2 separate regions of the Homo sapiens genome follow, and region 2 is linked to region 1. The links come from fine-mapping of genetic effects on gene expression. A gene starts in region 1. The other region holds a variant in brackets. All regions are shown on one strand. Distances are between the middles of the regions. Region 1 holds the start of STEAP4 (STEAP4 metalloreductase). Region 2 overlaps STEAP4 (STEAP4 metalloreductase).

The links. PIP is the estimated chance that this variant, and not a neighbour inherited with it, causes the effect. A credible set is the group of variants that fine-mapping cannot tell apart.
Region 2: its variant is the best candidate, but not a certain one, in a credible set for the expression of STEAP4 in blood mononuclear cells (TOPMed, PIP 0.90).

What each region holds. Positions count from the first base shown.
Region 1 is chr7:88,304,650-88,309,050 of GRCh38, forward strand. STEAP4 (STEAP4 metalloreductase) reads right to left here and starts at 2,245. Exons shown (of 5, transcript NM_024636.4): 1 at 2,143-2,245. The region is part of intron 1 of LOC124901692 (a long non-coding RNA gene); the gene reads left to right.
Region 2 is chr7:88,267,491-88,271,891 of GRCh38, forward strand. STEAP4 (STEAP4 metalloreductase) reads right to left here. Exons shown (of 5, transcript NM_024636.4): 5 at 3,402-4,401. Among named protein-coding and RNA genes, the nearest start is that of STEAP4, 37 kb to the right of the region's middle. The variant T/C (reference allele first, on the strand shown) is at 1,790.

The sequences.
Region 1 (4,401 bases):
GTGTGTGTGTGTGTGTGTTTGCTAGCAACTTATCAGATTTCCTAAGATTTTCCAAAAAAAAAATGATTTTTAAGTAGCATTTGATAAACACGTCTAAATTAATTATGAAGAGAACTAGGTGGTAAGGATCCTAAAACAGTGGAATGTGTTCCTGAGAGTGACAACAGAATCAGCTACCCAGCCTTTAAAAGGAGAATTTATATCCTTTTAATAACAGTATTAATAATAGTAGGGTGATTCAGGGGAAGTCCTTCAAGAGACAAAGTAATGCAGAGTGACCACTCCAAGTTTCTTTGAATATAAAATTCCATAACAAATGACCTTATTTTTCTTAAAATTGTTCACACATAGTGCAAGGCCTGGGGTTTTTAATTTATTAACAATCTTAAAAAGTCTGTTTAGTTCCTTCTAAACAACAGTTAGCGAGCTTTAGTAAGGCAGAAGTCTGGAAATTGTTCTTCAGCTAGGGGCCAGGCCTTGTACACCTGGTTTCTGAACAATGTGAACTTCAACAATGTGAACAACGTGAACCTCAGTGGAACTGTAAACGTTACCAAATAGAAAAACTGCTATGACCCAATTTCTCTGTACACATGTACCATTTACTTTACAGCCTTGGAGCCTGATAAATAGGAAGTGTCTCATCCTGTTTTCTGGGTTGGCAGTGTTTGCCATGCAGGTAGAATACATGCAGGTCAAATCTCATATTGTGCTAAATCACAGCATTCTGAAAAACTTGGGACCTTGCAAAAGGCCATATCTCAGAAAAGTTACTGCTTCAAATAAATGTGCCATTTTACAAAATTATACCTACTGTATCAGAAAAAAAAAATGTTCTCTCATGTGAGTGACATTTATATGACTGCCATTTGTAGGGAATAGGACATTCTCACATAGCAAGGCTGAAGAATGGTTTTGAAAGCTGAGAGTATTCTCTGAATGATAAATGTGGCAGAACTTTAAGATGCTCCTGTGGGAAGAGACTCTTCCCCCGACAACTGGAGAGTTTCCTTATAAAAATGGAACATGCATTATTATGAAAAAAGTAACCACTGAATTATAGTTGTAGCATTAAGGAGATTTTCTATGTATTTCAAACTTGCAGGCATCTTTAGTCACGGCTTTTCACCTTGTTAGAGTTGAACTTTCTGGATCATCTGGCCCAGTAGCCAGCCTTTTATTTTACATCTGTGGAAACTGAGGCTGAGATAATGAGGTTCTAGTTATTATAGAACTAGGAATAGTATTCTTCCTCCCCTCCCCCATTCTCTATCCAATTCACTTTCTCAGCTCACTGCAACCTCCACCTCCCAGGTTCAAGTGATTTTCCTGTCTCAGCCTCCTGTGTAGCTGGGATTACAGGCACCTGCCACCACGCCTGGCTAATTTTTGTATTTTTAGTAGAGACTGGGTTGCACTATGTTGGCCAGGCTGGTCTCGAACTCCTGACCTCAAGTGATCCATCGGCCTTGGCCTCCCAAAGTGTTGGGATAACAGGCTTGAGCCACCGTACCCAGCCTCAGTACACCAATCTTTTAAAGAAAGTTCCTAAATTACCATCTAGAGGTGGGAAAAAGAATAATAAAATTCTGTCTCTGGACAAACAAACGGAACTGAGGCTTTATTTACTCTTCACAATAAATTATATTCTGAACAATCTTCCTCCAGAAAAATAACCTTTAAATTGCAAGAGGAAATTTAAATCAAGATAAAAAAATGGAAGTGGTTGCAGGTATCAGGACAAATTTTTAGTGCCTGGTCAAGAAGCAGCCTCGGATCTGAGACCTTGGAGACTGACTGCTAAAGCCACATTCTTCCAGCCTACTTTTTGATGGGCGCCCCAAGAGTGCGCCAATCCAGAAGTAAGATGCAGAGAAGAATCTAACCCCTTAATTTTCCCCCTTTGGGCTTGTCTGCACCCTGGGGTAGGGATGAGCCTTAAACTCCAGGAAGTTAGAAGCTTGCTGAATCGCGGAGCAGCCTCAGGTGACTTTCCTCTAAAGTGATGCCGGGGCGCGGCGGGGAGTTTGCAAGCACCTGTTCTTCAGTGCGATGGGCTGGGGAGTGGGGTCCTAGCAGCAGGGACTGGAGGTGAGCTGAAGCAGATAAGGGACGGGAGCCTTGTGGCGAAAAGTGACCCACCTGAGGGAGAGGCGCTTCCAAGGAGGAAGCGTCCAGCGCCAACGGTGCGCGCCGCGGGCCGGGCGGGTAGAGGGAAGTTTCGCCGCGCCTGCAGCTCAGCGCTGTGGCTTGTGGCTCTCGCTGCTATAAGAAGCCAGAGAAGGGCGGGACGGTCTGCTGGATTTCGCAAGAGAAGCGGAAAAGAACTTGTTTCCTGGAAGAGTTCAAGCTGAGAATCCCAGCAGCTGGAAGGACCGGAACTTCTATACTGCGGTGCTGCTGATGGTGCCGCTGACCCCCGGGAAGCGGGGATTTTAAGGGTTACACCCGAGCCCTTGGCATCTGTGCATCCCAGGGTGATTGAGGTTTGGAGAGGTCTAGGAATCCCCCTTTCCTAAAGGAGCAAGAAGGATCTCTTTGAGTAGCTGAGAAAACAGCACCTGGACTAGGCTTCTAGGCAATTCTTTTGCCATCTTGTCTCAGTTTATAGAAAAGGTGGTATCTTTCCCCTCCGCCTGGAAGCCATGGGTTCTTATGGGGCTCATAACTTGGAAGATCTTGAGTTTTCAGGTCTTAATTTAGGTAGATTAAAGAAATAAAACAAATGAAAGAGGGATCGGGATACCTTATGATATACATGCAAATGTGTCTTTCTACAGAGAAGGTCAAAAACCACAGCCCTGGTTGTTTAAGATTGAAATAATCCTGATAAACTATGGGGCAAAGCATCCATACACTCCCAAACTCTGTAATCTAAATCCCAGAGTCTTCCCAATGATCTCCACTCAGCCATGGGTCTTAAATTCCACAGCATACGCTTGCCAAGCTCCAGAGGCCCGGCCACATGGGAGGCCTGTTCCTCCCATGGAAAGGGGTTGTTGAGTCAACCTTCCCTTTGTCTGGATTGCAACTCTCCTCATAGCTTCTTGTGGGGTTGGTCAGACCCCATGTCTTTCAAGAGGTCTTTTCTTAGCCATTAGTTGCAATTAATATTTTCTTTCTCTATACAGTAGTTTATACTTTTAGCACAGCAATTAAGACAATTTGCCTTTCAAAAGAGTTATTATCATGTGTGTGTGTCTTGTCCTGGACTGCAGTCTTCGAGGGATGACACCCTAGTTTTTTCAGTCTGGAATTTTCCATAACACCTAGCAAAATGCATTACTTAACAATGGGGATTTATTCTGAGGAATGCCTCATTAAGCAATTTATTAAATATATTCTGAGGAATGTCTCATCAAGCAATTTCGTCATTGTGTGAACATCATAGAGTGCACTTACACAAACCTAGATGGTATCACCTACTACAGGCCTAGGCTAGATGGTATATAGCCGATTGCTCCTAGTCTACAAACCTGTTCAGTATGCTACTTTTCTGAATACTGTAGTCAGTTGTAACACAATGGTAAGTATTTGTGTATCTAAGCATAGAAAAGGTATAGTAAAAATGTGGTATAAAAGATAAAAAATGGTATACCTGTATGGAACACTTACCATGAATGGAGCTTACAGGACTGGAAGTTGCTCTGGGTGAGTAAGTGAGAGAGTGTGAAGGCCTAGGATATTACTATACACTACTGTAGACTTTATAAACACTACATTTAGGCTATGCTATTATAAGAAATATTTTTCTTCCTTCAATAGTAAATTACCCTTAGCTTTCTGTAACATTTTTACTTTTTAAACTTCTAAGTTTTAAAAAACTTTTTGAGTTTTGTAATAACGCAGCTTAAAACACATATTGTACAGTGTGTACAAATAGTTTTTGTCTTTATATCCTTATTCGATAAGCTTTTGTCCCGTTTTTAAAAGTTTTAATTTTTTTGCTAAAAATGAAGACACAAACACACATATTAGCATAGACCTACACAGAATCAAGATATGTGATATCACTGTCTTCCACCTGTATGTCTTTTGTTACTGAAAGGTCCTCAGGGGCAGTAACATGCATGGAGCTGTCTTCTGTGGTAGCAATGCCTTTTTCTGGAATATCTGCTGAAAGACCTTCCTGAGGCTGTTTTACAGTTAACTTTTTAAAAAATACAAGTAGAAGGAGTACACTCAAAAATAATTTAAAAGGTACATATAATAAATACATAAGCCAGTAACATAGCTATTTATTATCATTATCAAGTATTATATACTGTACATAATTGTACATGCTATACTTCTATATGACTGGCAGCATAGTAGGTTTCTTTACACCAGCATCACCACAAATGTGAGTAATGTATTGCTCTGTGATGTTATGACAGCTACAGTGTCCCTAGGCAAGAGGAA
Region 2 (4,401 bases), 37 kb before region 1:
TCCTGTACCCTTTTTCTTCCCTTCTCCATTTTCCTTACTATTCTCCGTTTTCCATTACTTACTATTCTCCATTTTCCTTACTACTCTCCATTTTCCATTACTTACTATTCTCCATCTTCCGTTCTCCAGTTTCCTTACCATTCTCCATTTTCCATTACTTACTATTCTCCATCTTCCATTCTCCGTTTTCCTTACTATTCTCCATTTTCCATTACTTACTATTCTCCATCTTCCATTCTTCGTTACTTACTACTCTCCATCTTCCATTCTCCATTTTCCTTACTCTGCACTTGTGGCATCTATTTGTGTGTTTCCTTAAGTATAGTTCTTATTTCTTATTGTTTGCTCTTTGACCCTCCTAATTCTTTCTTGGCATTTGTTAATTCTTATTTTCTTTTCTTCTATAAACTTGTGGCACAACTCCTAGGTATAAGGAATGCTACAATTTTTTAATTTTGTAAGTCAGAATAACTTTTTGTGGAGCTACTGTGCACCTAGCCAATATCACATTCAATTTAAGTTAATTTTTGTGTCTTTTTTTCTCTCATCCTTCTCTCAAATCAGGGTGCAGAAATTGATTAGGGCTAGAAGGTGGGGGAGGGTTCTGGTCTGTGCCTGTGGTGGTTGACATCTTTATTCTGGCTCTTCTGGCCACATGATACTGCTGTTAAGAGTTGGGTCGATGTAGTCACTTTGCTTTGCATGGCCTTTGAAGTGTTTCTCAGAGAACTTTACTGTATTGACTGAAGATTCTTACTAAAAGCTTTGTGTCTTACTAAAGTAATGAGTCATCTCTCAGCATTTGGGATACTTCATTCTGCAATCCTCGTTCCTCTGCCTCAGATTCAGGGTGGTGGAGGGATTAAATCCATACCTTTTTCTCAGATTCAGCCATTTTCAACTTTTGCTCCCCAAGCATCTTTTCTTCACTATCTCTTTACCATGTTTAGCCCTTCTCTGAGACTAGCAGCTTCATAATGTTCAGTGAAACAGAAATGCATTTTTTTCTTTCGTATGTATTTTTAGACCTTAAGAATCACATATTTTCTTCTCTTTCATAGGTAGGGGATTGGAACTTGGAAAAAGAGATATGCTTCCCTAACACACTCTGTGATGTACATTTGTCACTTATTTATGCTTAACATCTTAGGACATAACAATTGGCGAAACTATCTGTTGAGGATTATATTTGAGTGAAAGGGTTAATAAATGTCATAATTATTATCTAATGTTATTAACAAAAGTTATTTATTTTGCTGCTTTTCTGCCTGTGATGCTTTGTCAGTTAGGTTCTCCAAGAAGCAGGTACCAAGATAGGATGGGAGATTTATTGGAAGAAATGACTTAAAGGATAAAGGAGGAGGGAGCCTTCATATTGCAATGCTGGTCTTACACGTGCAAAAGATGAAGGCAAGGGAAACATTGGATAGGAGGAGATCCAGATCATAGTGCAGATGTGAAAAGGTCTTGGCTGGCCCAGTGGGAACATCCAAGCAAATGCTGCCCATTAGAGGAAGCTCATATGAGGCAATGATCCATTAGAGGAAGCTCATATGAGGCAATGATCCATTAGAGGAAGCTCTTTTGAGGCAATGATGGCTTTGTTCTAGTATCTCTGTTATGCATGGTCATTGCCTGGGAGCAGCCCAAGGGCAATGTGGATCATGTGAATAACGTGGTGCTTATCAATAATGTGGGCCAGTTGAAAGTTGTTTATTTGTTATGTTTCCTTGCAGCAGGTTCTCTTGAAGGAACATCTGAGTAGGTCATCTTCCATGACTGCCACTGA[T/C]GTCTACTTGGTATTTTTAGCCAGTTTTATAAAAACTATTTTTATTGTAAAATTATTTTATATTAAAGCAGTTTTAACAGTCTTCTTCATATGGGGAAGAATTCCAACAGAGATGAAATAATGGACAACTTTTTGTTGTTGAATATTCCTAAAATGTTTACTAAGACTTTAAATATTATTTTAATGAGAGAACGTTAAAGAAGGGGAAAATGTTGTGTATCATTCTTTAGAATTCCAATAATCACAGTCAGCCTAAATATACCACTAGATAATTCTGTTTCTTTAGTCTCTGTCATGTTTTTTAAAGGCAAAGTACTCATCACAGACTGAAAAGTCCAAAATTGTCACTGGATATACCTGTTTCGGATCAGCCCTTTTGACCCCCATTTTTTTTTGGATCTACAACCAGCTTGTTTTCAACTTAATCACCTGATTTCAAAAGGATCGGAAAAAACCCTAGCCTGAAAATCAGTCATCTGTGGTCCAATTCTGCTTTGTTGCAATGTAGCTATGTGACCTTGCAGAAATTACTTCACCCTCTTGGGTTCAGTTTCCACATCTGTGAAATGAATGTATACTATTAGATAATCTCTAGGCTTCATGTAGTCTAAAAAACACTATAGTTGGAGTTGGAGGTTATGGATAACGTTTCTGTATTTCCTATCAAAAACTAAAATAAAGACATGGAGGCCATGTTTAGGAAATATGTGTAGAGCATATCTTTTGGAAAAGGGAATTAATATTTAAAACAATTTTCTATGCTGAAGGATAGGTTAATTTATATGAGATAAACTTTAATAAGAATATGGTGAGTGCTTTTTTTTAAGTAAACCTTTTATTTTAGAACAATGTTAGGGTCATAGTATTTTAAAATAATTTTAGATTTATAGCATTATTGCAAAGACAGTGCAGATAGTGCAAGATATTTTTGCTTTGTACTTAGGTTTAAAAATATTAATGGTAATCAGTGTAGGGTGGATGGTTTGGTGGTGGAAGGGGGCAGAGATGGGGCTAGAGGGGCAGACTATGGAGAGACTGGAATTAATGCTTTATGTGAAAAGAAATTAGGCATATTATTTGATGTGATCCTGAAATTTTGCGACTATAAAAATTTACAGTGAACATGTACACTAAATTAATAGAGACTCACAAGTTAGAATAACAGAAGCAACAATCACGTTATACTCTAAACCTGCACCTCAACTGGAGTTATATTTTTGATGCCTACTTGCTATTTTTAGCCAGTTTTATAAAAACTATTTTTATTGAAAATTTATTTTATATTAAAGTATTTTAAGTCTTTTTCATATGGGGAAAAATGCCAATACAGATGAAATAATGGACAACTTTTTGTTGTTGAATATTCCTAAAATGTCTACTAGGAATTTAAATACTATTTTAATTACAGAATGTGAAAGAAGGGAAAAATATCATGTTTTTGGTTTAGGGAACTGTGTTTTAAAAGGAACATTGAAATGTTTGTAGATCTGAACAAGAGGCACCAGAAAGATGAAAGATTTAGAAATTTTTATACAAGAGAAAACAGTGAATGTGCTGGTGTTTAGCGTAAGATAAGATTTAGCAGGGATATGCAATCAATTACTTTAAAAAATTTTTTGTTTATAATTTTTTAATTAAAAATTTTTAATTGACACACGATAATTATACATATTTATGGGGTACATAGTGACATTGCAATACACAAAATATACAGTGATCAGATTAGGGTAATTAGTATATCCATCATCTTAAGCATTTATCATTTCTTTCTGTTGAGAACATTCAATATCCTCCTTCTAGCTATTTAGAATATATATTATTGTTAACTGTAGTCATCCTACAGAGCTATAGAACACTACAACTTAATCTTCCTATCTAGCTGTAATTTTGTATCTTTTAACAAATTTCTTCCTATCCCCCATTACCTTTTAAATTAAATTTATTTTAATAATTAGGTAACCTACTCATGTAATTTAAAAACCAAAATGATATGAAAAGGTCTACAGTGCTTCTACTCCTGTCACTACTCCTCTGTTCTCCCATCTTGTTTGGTATGGATCTTTTGAATCCTTCTGAGAGTTTCTTTAGGCAATTAAAAGCAAATACACATATGCAAAAGGAATCATACTATATATGTTATTTTGTACCTTTTTAAAAACTGAACAGTATATTTTGGACATCTTTCCATATATGTGAAAGAAGGTGTCTTGGTTTGTTTTAAACAGCTGCATAGAATTTCATTCTGTGAAAGCATCATAGTTTCCTTAACCAGTCCCAAAGATGAATGCTTGAATCACTGCCCATATTCTACTTTTACAATGTTATTCATGAAAAACAAGAAAAACAAATAGCAATGCTTCTTTTTCATCTCAAATGCTTGTAGGCATATCTATAGCATAAATTCTCAGGAGTGAGACTCCTGGATCAAAACTTAACTCTGCATTTTTTAATTTTGAAAGATATTCCCTAACTGCTCTCCACAGGAGCGGTCCTAATCTGCATATCCAAGAGCAATGTATGTGAACCTACGTTTCCACAGCCTCACCCACAGAATGTGTGCTCAAACATTTGGATTTTTGCCCATCTACTAGGTGAGAAATGGTATTGATACA